2 separate regions of the Homo sapiens genome follow, and region 2 is linked to region 1. Evidence: fine-mapped QTL for protein levels in blood plasma. A gene starts in region 1. The other region holds a variant in brackets. All regions are shown on one strand. Distances are between the middles of the regions. Region 1 holds the start of CHCHD10 (coiled-coil-helix-coiled-coil-helix domain containing 10). Region 2 has its middle 9.6 kb from the start of GSTT2B.

Evidence for each region. PIP is the chance, under the fine-mapping model, that this variant and not a neighbour inherited with it causes the effect. The UK Biobank Pharma Proteomics Project read protein levels with antibody pairs (Olink). The fine-mapping took linkage between variants from a reference panel, not from the people measured, so its PIPs are less certain.
Region 2: its variant is fine-mapped to the plasma level of the CHCHD10 protein (UK Biobank, PIP above 0.99).

What each region holds. Positions count from the first base shown.
Region 1 is chr22:23,765,502-23,770,864 of GRCh38, reverse strand. It overlaps CHCHD10 (coiled-coil-helix-coiled-coil-helix domain containing 10), which reads left to right and starts at 2,893. Exons shown (of 4, transcript NM_213720.3): 1 at 2,893-3,031; 2 at 3,272-3,491; 3 at 4,590-4,737; 4 at 4,839-5,031. The coding sequence starts at 2,991. The coding sequence ends at 4,858. C22orf15 (chromosome 22 open reading frame 15) reads right to left here. Exons shown (of 6, transcript NM_182520.3): 6 at 5,002-5,144. The coding sequence ends at 5,133. It overlaps LOC107985577 (a long non-coding RNA gene), which reads right to left and starts at 2,639. Exons shown (of 3, transcript XR_007068022.1): 1 at 2,072-2,639. RefSeq lists enhancers at 3,756-4,555, 4,556-5,355.
Region 2 is chr22:23,948,886-23,954,248 of GRCh38, reverse strand. No RefSeq gene overlaps it. Among named protein-coding and RNA genes, the nearest start is that of GSTT2B, 9.6 kb to the left of the region's middle. RefSeq lists enhancers at 1,208-1,899, 1,900-2,591. The variant G/C (reference allele first, on the strand shown) is at 2,905.

The sequences.
Region 1 (5,363 bases):
GATGGGGTTTCACCGTGTTGGCCAGGCTGGTCTTGAACTCCTGACCTCAGGTGATCCACCCGCCTCGGCCTCCCAAAGTGCTGGGATTACAGGCGTGAGCCACCGCGCCTGAAAGGCAATCTTTTCTTTAAAGTCACTCACTTTTATTTACTTTTATTATTTTGAGACAGGGTCTTGCTCAATGGTGTGATCTTGGCTCACTGCAACCTCCGCCTTCCAGGCTCAAACGATCCTCCTGCCTCAGCCTCCCAAGTAGCTGGGACTACCGGTGTGCATCACTATGCCCTGCTAATTTTTGTATTTTTTGTAGAGACAGGGTTTCACCATGTTGGCCAGGCTGGTCTCGAACTCCTGGACTCAAGCAATCTGCCTGCCTGGGACTCACAAAGTTCTGGGATATAGACATGAGCCACTATTCCCCGCTAAAGTGACTCATTTTTAAAAAGTAGGCATTTCAGGCCAGGCGTGGTGGCTCATGCCTGTAATCCCAGCACTTTGGGAGGCTGAGGCAGGCGGATCACAAGAGACCATCCTGGCCAACATGGTGAAACCCTGTCTCTACTAAAAATACAAAAAAAAATTAGCTGGGCATGGTGGCACGTGCCTGTAGTCCCAGCTACTTGGGAAGCTGAAGCAGGAGAATCACTTGAACCCGGGAGGTGGAGGTTGCAGTAAGCTGAGATCACACCACCGCACTCCAGCCTGGCAACAGAGTGAGACTCTGTTTAAAAAAACAAAAACAAAAACAAAAAAACAACAAAAAACAAACAATTAGCGGGGCATGGTGGCATGTGCCTGTGGTCCCAGATACTCGGGAGGCTGAGGCAAGAGAATCGCTTGAACCCAGGAGGCAGAAGTTGCAGTGAGTGGAGATCATACCACTGCACTCCAGCCTGAGCGACAGAGCAAGACTCCGTTTCAAAAAAAAAAAAAAAAAAAAGTTGGCATTTCAATGCCTGCTTCAGTGTCATCCTTTCAGCCTCATTTTCATTTGTGTAACCCACTTAAGTGGTCTTGGGTGCCTCCGAGGTGCAAGGCCATGCTTTGTGGAACCTGCAGTCCATCAGCCATGGGAGCTGAAGTAACAACTCTCTGCAGTTTAGGCCCGGGGACCACCATGAGAAGTGTTCAGTTTGTTTGGTGTGGCAAACAGGAACCAGGTGGCATGGACTGCATGAACAAGGGAGTAGCGGCTGGACCAGGCCTGGTGAGTCTGCCAGGAAAGAATGGCCCACCCTTGGTGTGCTCACCTCACTGGGAGGCCACCCTCAAGGTGGGTGGTCACCCCCCTTCAGAGAGGAGAAACTGAAGACAGGGCGGGGAAGGGCCCTGTTCACAGGCTGGCTGAAAGGACTGCAGTGTGAGAGAACACAGGGCTGCACCTGACTTCCATGGAGAGCATGCATGGCTGGGGACAGCTGTGCACACACAGAATTGAGCATGCCAGGCAGGGCCAAACGCCCCAGCCACCACTCCCCTTGCCCCTTGACCTGCTCCTTCCTTATGGAGGGGCCTCCTCTCTTACTTGGTGACCCACACCCCCACTTCTGGGTGCTTTTGCTCTTGGTTGCACCCTGCCGACAATCCCGGTGTCAGGAGTCCTCTGCAGGCACAGCAGTGATGAGGGACAGTCCCTACCTTCCCCCACCTAGGAGTAATAATATGACCACTGCAAAGTCACCCAGAAAAGACCATAAAAACCTCAAGCTCAGCCGGGCGCGATGGCTCATGCTTGTAATCCCAGCACTTTGGGAGGCTGAGGTAGGAGGATCATGAGCTCAGGAGTTGGAGACCAGTTTGGCCAACATGGTGAAACCCCGTCTCTACTAAAAATACAAAAATTAGCCAGGTGTGGTGGCACGAGCCTGTAGTCCCAGCTACTCAGGAGGCTGAGGCAGGAGAATTGCTTGAATCCGGGAGGTGGAGGTTGCAGTGAGCCGAGATCGCCACTGCACTCCAACCTGGGCGACAGAGCAAGGCTCCGTGTCAAAAAAAAAAAAGTAAAAAGTAAAATTAAAACCTCAAGTTCTCGAAGAGCAGGAAAGCATTCTAAATCCGCGCTCCAGCTCACCTGGCCTGGAACGAAGCTGCTAAAATTGCGAGGCCGCAGGCTTCAAACTTGCGCTAGATTTGACCGAGCCGGGCAAATGCTCCTAGGCCTTTGGGATAGACACGCTGCTCGGATGTCGCGTAAAGGCCGTTAGTGTCGGGGGTTGCACTCGCGGGGCCAGGGACTAGGTGGGGGCGGTCGGGCCGGCCCGGGGAATCCGGTGGGGTTCAGGGCCGCGCGGGGGGCCTCATATCCCCCGCGGGCACTGCGTAAGGCTGCCAGCATTGGCAGCGCATTTTGGCCAACAGTCGAAGACGGGTTGGGACGCCCCCTCGTGGGAGTTCTGGGGATGGGTTGCTCCAGGCCTTCCCCAGGGCCGCGCTTCACTTCCCTAGGCCACCGGAGACTCCCAGGCCACGCGGTGGTCAGCAGACCCTGTCTGGAGGGAGGGGACAGACAGCCGAGTCCGGGAGGGGGCAGAGAGCGGAGTCCAGCCTGGAGCCTCGCGTCCCCTTCCCAGCTGGCCCCATCCCGTCGCCTCCCCGTCTCCTCTCCCCTCCAGGGCTCGCAACAACCCCCAACTCCGCTCCCTGCCCTCTGCGGTGGTCCTAACAGAAGGCACTGTCGCCCTCCTTAAGCCCTCGGCGCTTTGCGACACTGGCCCCTGTCCCCAGAACCCGCACAGCCTGCCAGGCGCAGGGAGGGAGCAGGGTCCCATTTCCAGCCGAGACCCGGAGCTGCTGGAAGGGAGATGTCCGGAGGACGGGAGAAGGGGGATAGGGTTGGGGGCAGTGCCGCCTCCCGCTGGGGGCGTGTTCCTGAGGCCCCGCCCGGGGCCCCGCCTTTTTTGCGCCGGCTGTGACAAGCGCTGCGGCATTTGTCCCCGCGACAGCACCGCTGCCGCCGTCTCTAAGGTCGCCCGGGTCCCACCGCCGCCACCATGCCTCGGGGAAGCCGCAGCGCGGCCTCCCGGCCAGCCAGGTGTGAGGGGGACAAGGGCCCTGTGGGGAGGGGGTTAGGGAAGTGTGGGCACTCCCCTAAGGGCGTCCGCAGAGTGACCTTGGCTGCTGCTGCGCCATCTTGGCGGGGGGAGGGGTGGGGGTGCAGCACCCACGTGTGGAGACGTGGGTCGTCCATCTCTCCGGGGGTCGTTTCCAGGAGCTGCAGCCCTCCAGCCTGGGGTCTGGCCAGGATTAACCCTGCTTCCTCCCACCCCCGCAGCCGCCCAGCCGCGCCCTCTGCCCACCCGCCCGCGCACCCACCGCCCTCGGCAGCCGCCCCAGCCCCCGCCCCTTCGGGCCAGCCGGGGCTCATGGCTCAGATGGCGACCACGGCCGCAGGGGTAGCCGTGGGCTCGGCTGTGGGACACGTCATGGGCAGCGCCCTGACCGGAGCCTTCAGCGGGGGGAGCTCGGAGCCCTCCCAGCCTGCTGTCCAGCAGGTGAGCAGCGAGTCCAAGAGAAACTGAGGCAGGATTATCTCGAGGCCACACAGGGAGCTGCCCAAGTGTCCAGTGAGGAGTGTCCGCGTGTATTCACCATTGCTTCAGCCCAGGACTCTGCCCGGGAAGGGTCCTAGTCCACTGGTCTTGAGTTCACTGTCACTTAGAGGCAGGCTTCCCGGCCTCTCCCTTGAGGCCAGGGTCCCTAAGCTCCCAGGGAGAGACACCAACCAGCCCTTTAAAGATGGGAAACCCAGGCCCTGAGGGCTCAGAGACTCGCCCAAGGTCACCTCACCCTAGCAGAGGGGAGGGATGTTGGATTTCCTGAGCCCCTGTTCTCCCCACACCCAGGTCTGGGCACTGTGGCCGCTGGGCGCAAGGGCGAAGGGGAGCCACTTCCCTGATGACCTTTCCCCTGCTAGGAACCCCACCGCCGTAAGCCAAATGTGGCTTTGTGGCTAGGTCAGGGGTCATGAGGATTAGTGTAGCTGAGCCAGGAAGGTGCTAGAACTTGTGGGGGTGGGGCTCATACTCTGAGAGTACAGGCAGAGTACTGGGCTTTCCTAGAGCCTTCTCCTCCCTCTCCTGCACCCGCCCAAAGTGCCCATTAGAAGGCAGCAGAGGCCAGGCGCAGTGGCTCATGCCTGTAATCCCAGCACTTTGGGAGGCCAAGGCGGGTGGATCATGAGTTCAGGAGTTCGATACCAGCCTGGCCAACATAGTGAAACCCCCTCTCTACTAAAAATACAAAAAATTTGTTGGGCATGGTGGCGGGCGCCTGTAGCCCCAGCTACTTGGGAGGCCAAGGCAGGACAACCACTTGAACCCGGGAGGCGGAGGTTGCAGTGAGCCGAGACTGCGCCGCTGCACTCCACTCTAGGTGACAGAGTGAGACTCTGTCTCAAAAAAAAAAAAAAAAAAAGGCAGCAGAAACATGCTGTCTGTAGCCGCCTCTGCTGCTGGATCACTCAGCCTGCCTAGGACCCTTGGGACACCCAGGCTGGGGATGTGGGGAGGGGCAGGTGGCCCCAGGTTTGAAACGCACCTCCAGGTGCCAACTCCAAGCTGATCCTGCAGCCTCTTGCACTGTACCCCCAGGCCCCCACCCCCGCTGCCCCCCAGCCCCTGCAGATGGGGCCCTGCGCCTACGAGATCAGGCAGTTCCTGGACTGTTCCACCACTCAGAGTGACCTGTCCCTGTGTGAGGGCTTCAGCGAGGCCCTGAAGCAGTGCAAGTACTACCATGGTGAGTGAGTGGACCCCGACTCAGGCGGGGAGGGGGAGAGGCCAACCCTCCTCTTGCACCTGCAGGCTGACCACCAGCCTGTGCTGCCCCTCCCTTCCCAGGTCTGAGCTCCCTGCCCTGAAGAGGTCGGTGCAGACTCGGGGGCCAGTCCTGCACCCACCTCTACCCCTCGCCGACAGCCAGACCACAACACCAGATTGTACCCAGATAGCTGGGATTGGAAGTGAGGAGGTTTCTCACCCCACAGATAACCCAAGACACAAATGTGCAATTAAAAGTTTATTTTAGACCACAGCCTGTTGTGTGCCTCTCTCGATGGCCTGTCTTCAGGGAGCTCCCTGGCTGATGAGGTGGGGTCAGGATGGATGTCTCACTACAGTGTGCAATCCATCCCCTTAATCAGGGCCCTGGGTGGGGAGGAGGAGCCCTGTTGCAATCTGCACTGTGGGTAGCACAGGACAGATTCCTTGGGCAGTCCAGAGTGAGGTGGAGAGGCATTAGTCGGTGATCCCAAGGGCATCTGACTCTGAGGGTGGAATCCCAGGATGAACCCATGGTCTCCCCCTTATCAGGGATACCTGCCACCTCTACCCTTCTTGTCTCTACCTCTGCATCCCATTCTCTGC
Region 2 (5,363 bases), 180 kb before region 1:
GTGTGCAGGTGGTAGCTGTGGAATTAAGGCACATTAGGGGAATCCTTCCTTGGCTCTGGTCCTTGGTTTCCCTCCTATGAAACAAGTTGGGTGAATTAGGCAGTCTCTGGCATTCCAGGATTTGGTCTCAGGTCTAAACAGAATTTTGTAAAGTGAAAGCAGCATCCCTTGGGCATCCCGGGAGGTGTCCCTGCCCTCCATGGCTCACCGTCTGCCACATGGCCCAGCAGCAGCTACTCTGCAGGGCCATGTGCTGCCATGACAGGTACTGATCCCCATGGGCGCGGGCCTGCAGGTCCTGGAGGTACCAGTGGTCAGGTGCTTTGTACATGCAGCTCATATAGAGCAAGCTAGCCACACTGGGGGGACATGGCAGGGGCAGAAGACATGCCCTGAACACTCTTCAACCGTTTTCTGGGGCATTTTCACTATCCCCATGATGCAGAGGAGGGATGTGAGGCTCAGAGAGGTTAGGTAACTACCCAGGGTCACACAGCCCTACACGGGGCCAGACTGTCATCTCAACTAAGGGCAGCAAGGAAGAAACAAAATGTCATGAACTTCAGCAGGGGCTCAGGGAAGGCTTCCAGGAGGAAGGGGCACCCAGTGTGAGTCTGAAGAACGAGAGCATGTTGGATATCTCCCCAACATATCCAAAGTGTGGACAGGGCCAGGAGCAAGGCCAGCAGGGACAGAGCCTTCCAGGTGACATGGCAGCATTGCTTCCCACCCTGTCCCAACTCCCGTTCACCTATGGTGAAGGGTTGTGCAGTCTGACCCTCAGAGCTCATCATGCCTTTATGGGTGTTGGACCATCCAGTGATCCCAGGCTCTGAATGTGAATCCAGCTCCACCAAGGAGGCACTATGTGGCCTCGGTAAAGGACGCCACCATGCGGCCACCAACCTGGAGGCTGGTTTTGGCTTTCATTTTTCCCACCCACCTCCAACCCTTCAGCAAACCCTGCAGTTAGATTTCAATAAAAGTCAGAACTGACCACAATCCCCCGCAACCCTGCACCACCACCACCTTGGTCTGGGGCTCCAGCGCTGCATGCCAGATGACTGCAGTGGCTTTCTCACCCCTGCCAGGGGGATCCTTTACGACGTAAGTCAGATCACAGTTCTCCTCTGCTCAAAACTCTCCAACAACTCAATCCACCTGCGGTAAGAGCCAAAGCCTTCCCAGTGTCCCATGCTCCCCTCTGTCGTGACCTCCTGCTCTTCCTGCTCACTGCACCCACCCTGGCCCGTTGCTCTCCAGTCTGAACCCCATGCATTGTCCCACCTGGAGCCTTCGCCCTCACTCTTCCCTCCAGTGAGAACACCCTTCTCCTCATGCCTTGCACATTCCTACAGCTCCCTGCTCAGATGCCACCTCCTCCAGGGAGTCTTCCCTCAGCATCCTACTCATAATGACACACACCCCCACTCTTACCCTGTTTATTTTTTCCATGGCATCCATCAACATCCGATATGTTCCATGTTTACATGGGTTACTGTCAGCTCCCCCTTCTATTAATGGAATGTGAGATCCATGAGGAGAAGGACGCAGACACGTTCACTGCTCAAGCCCCAGGGCTTAAATGGGGTCTGGCCCTGGTGGATGTTTAGCAAATAGCCACTGAAGCTCGCTGAGTGGTCCCTCGACTCTCCAGGGAAACAGCACTTGCCCCACAGGATTTGTGGGCAAAATGGTAGCACTAAGATGCCTGGTACAGCCGCTCCTCGAAACTTAGCACTCTCCTTTTTTCGGAGGGGAAGGCTGGCGGTGAGGAGGCCCGGAAGCAGACTGGGCCCTGTGGCCTTGTGCAAGTCCCTCCCCTCCTCCAGCCTCAGTTTCCTCACTTGTACAATGCAGGAGGGGACTTCTATAACCCTTGTCAACACTGGGCACCTCTGCCTGCCTCCACCCATTCTTCACCCTGGGGCTGGTGCAGGGCCCACAGTCCATGATCCAAGCCATCAACAGTGAACAGACAGCCGACTGGCCCCACAAGGCCCGGCAGCAGCCCACGGACCGGTTACCTCTCAGCCAAGGTGAAGTCCCCATCCTTCAAGGCCCGGCACCTTCCTCAGGGGGTTCACCTGGGCAAAGGCATCGCTGTGCTGCTGGCCTGCAGGAAAGATCAGAGAGGTGAGTGGGGATAACCCAGAGTTCTCTGAGGTCTCTGCCCACCCCCACCCCAAAATCCCAGCAGCAGCTTTCTGAGGCCCCTATCTGGGAGGCATCAGGGAAGAGGAAGCCTCTCTGCTAGTCACTGGGTCACAGACCTTGACCCCATCAGAGGGCCATCTTTCCTGTGTCCAGCTCCTTGAAGCATGGCTCAAGGACAATTCCCTGGAGCTGTAATTCACACCCCACCCCCAGCCAGTTCCATCCATAGGTCAGACCCCTCCAGCCTCCTCCCTGGGCTCTAGGCTTGCCCCCTCTGATTCAGCTTCCTATCCCAGCTGGGGACTTAGGCCCTACTGGCCAGGCTGGGTGACCTGTCAATACCCCAGAGTCCCAGCCAAACATGTTCCCAACCCTCAGACCAACCTCATTCTTGCTGGGAATCCCTGCCCCATTCAGCTACTTAGCCTCCGGTGGCTCAGCTCTTCTTGCTTTCTTATGCCAAACTCTCAAGGCTCCCTCCCCAGTGGGGGTTCCCAGGTCTGACTCACTTTAGCACTCTAGGCCAGTGCTAGAGGCCGCATTAGGTGCCTGGTGTTTGGATCAGAGGACCTCAGTCAAGCCAGGCTCCAGTCTGATCATAGGCCTACATGTGGGCCTCTTTGCCCTTCTACTGAATGGACATACACACCCCTGCCCATTCTCCCTCCACAGACTGCTTCTGTGTCCAGCCCCTGTTCTGTAGCAGGTGACTCAAGCTGGTTGTACCAAGGGCAGCAGTTGGGAAGA[G/C]TCAGCTGAGCAGGGTCCTCCCTCTGGCCTGCCCAGGGGGCTCTGGCTCTGCTCTCTGCCCTACTGCTTAGTTATAGCCCTGCCTCCTCCACTGAATTGTGCTCCAGCTGCATCTCTGTATGCCAGCCAGACCAGCAAACGCTGGAGCTCAGGGTGAGGGTGCTGGCCTCCCCCACTGCCCTGCCACAGGGCCCTCCAGCCTCTAGCCTCTAGGAGTAGCCCCTTCAGCTGGGTGAGAAGCCCCATGGGATAGAGCAAGTCAGATGCAGGAAAAGGAAAAGGCAGAAGAATGCCAAGAAATACATAAAAGTGGAAGAGACCCAGGGCCAGACATGGTGGTGCATGTCTGTGATCTCAACACTTTAGAAGGAGGAGGCAGGAGGATCACTTGAGCTCAGGAGTTCAAGGTCAGCCTGGTCTACATGGCAAAATCATGCGTCTACACACACCAAAGAAAAAAGTAGCTGGGCACGGGGACGTGCCTGTAGTCCCAACTATTCTACTTAGGAGGAGTAAGTTGGGAGGATCACTTGATCCTGAGAGGTCAAGGCTGCAGTGAGCCGGGATCATGCCACTGCCCTCTAGCCTGGGCTGCAGATTGAGACACTGTAATAAATAAATAAATAAATAAATAAATAAATAAATAAATAAATAAACAAACAAATAATACAAAAGTGGAAGAGACACAGGCAGGGGTAGACAGGGACTATTTTACTTAGGAAACAACGAGGCAGTTTCATTGTTTTTTCCAAGCACATGGGGTGAAGATATTCTTGCCCCACTCCATTTCCCTACCCTCGTTCTGTGCCTGCTGTGCCCTCTCTAAACCTGTATTTTGAAGAATGTTTTGTATTCACAAGCAAAGATCAAGCCTCTATTAAAATAGACAACCAGTGGGGCATGGCGGCTCATGCTTGTAATCCCAACACTTTGGGAGGCCAAGGCAAGAGGATCACTTGAGCCCAGGAGTTCTAGGCCAGCCTCGGAAACACAGCAAGACCTCCTCTCAATAATAATAATAATAATAAATTGGCCAGGCATGTCGGTGGGCACCTGTAGTCCCAGCTACTTGAGGGGCTGAGGCGGGAGGATCGCTTAAGCCTGGAAGGTCGAGGCTGCAGTGAGCCATGATTGTGCCACTGCACTCCAGCCTGAGTGACAGAGTTAGATGCTGTCTCCAAAAAGTAAAAATAATAACATAGATAATTATGTAATAGTTTCCACACCGGAGAGTCTGATTCTTCGTGTTAGTCTGCATTCTTGGCCCAACTGCAAAGCAGCGGGGACAGGCAGGGATCCGCGGCCAATATCCCCTGGGCCTGCCTGCCCAGCCCAGCTTTGGTCAGCTCCACTGTGCGAAGCTCGAAGGGGATGCCATTCTTGGCGAAGATGTAGACTGAACGGCAGGGCTGGGACAGCAGACCCATGGCGGGGGCAATGGGGTGGGGCGTGGGAGGGCAGACCTAAACCCAGGGGACGGGCCCTGGGGACAAACCCGGGGACAGGCCCGGGAACAGGAACTGCGGGCAGGAATGGCTGGTTGGGGGCGGCGGACAGGAACGGCTGGGGGTAGGTGAGGGTTGGGCAGGAACTGCTGGGTCACCGAGCCTGCAGCGGTGCACCTCACCAGGAGCCCCGAGTCCGGCCACGCCCTCTTCACTCATCCCTTGGCTCCTAGAACTTCGGGTCAATCAGTGGCGTGTCTGCTCTCTCACCACCCCTTTCTGGGAATCTAGGCTGCAGGTATATTTCCCACTAAAAGGGAAGAGGAGAGGCTGGGCGCGGTGGCTCACGCCTGTAATCCCAGCACTTTGGGATACCGAGGGGGGCGGATCACGAGGTCAGGAGATCGAGACCATACTGGCTAAAACGGTGAAACCCGTCTCTACTAAAAATACAAAAAATTAGCCGGGCGGGGTGGCGGGCGCCTGTAGTCCCAGCTACTCGGGAGGCTGGGGCAGGAGAATGGCGTGAACCCGGGAGGCGGAGCTTGCAGTGAGCCGAGCTCACGCCACTGCACTCCAGCCTGGGCGGCAGAGCCATACTCCGTCTCAAAAAATAAAAAAAAAGGAAGAGGAGAAAGGAGGTGCAGCAGCCTCCTTGCCCAGTGCCTGGGCCCAGTGCCCAGGACGGAGGCCAGAGAGGAAGGGTGGCTGACTGCCTGCGGGGCTGCCAGCCCCACACCTCATGAAGGAATGAGCTGTCCCTCCCCAGTTGCTGGGGTCATATTTGTTACACTCTAGCTAACGCCTCCCCGAGATGGCTGAGGCCCTGTGAGGCCTATCCAGAGGTTTCCAACAGTGCCTGGCATTGCACAGTAAATTAATCACCATGACACGAGTTTTGCAAAAGAGAAAAGATTTATTCACAGGGCACCAAGCAAGGATGTGGGATAGTAGCTCTCAAATCCACCTTCCCGAAAATAAGGCTTAGGGATAAGCCTTGCTTCCAAGCAGTAG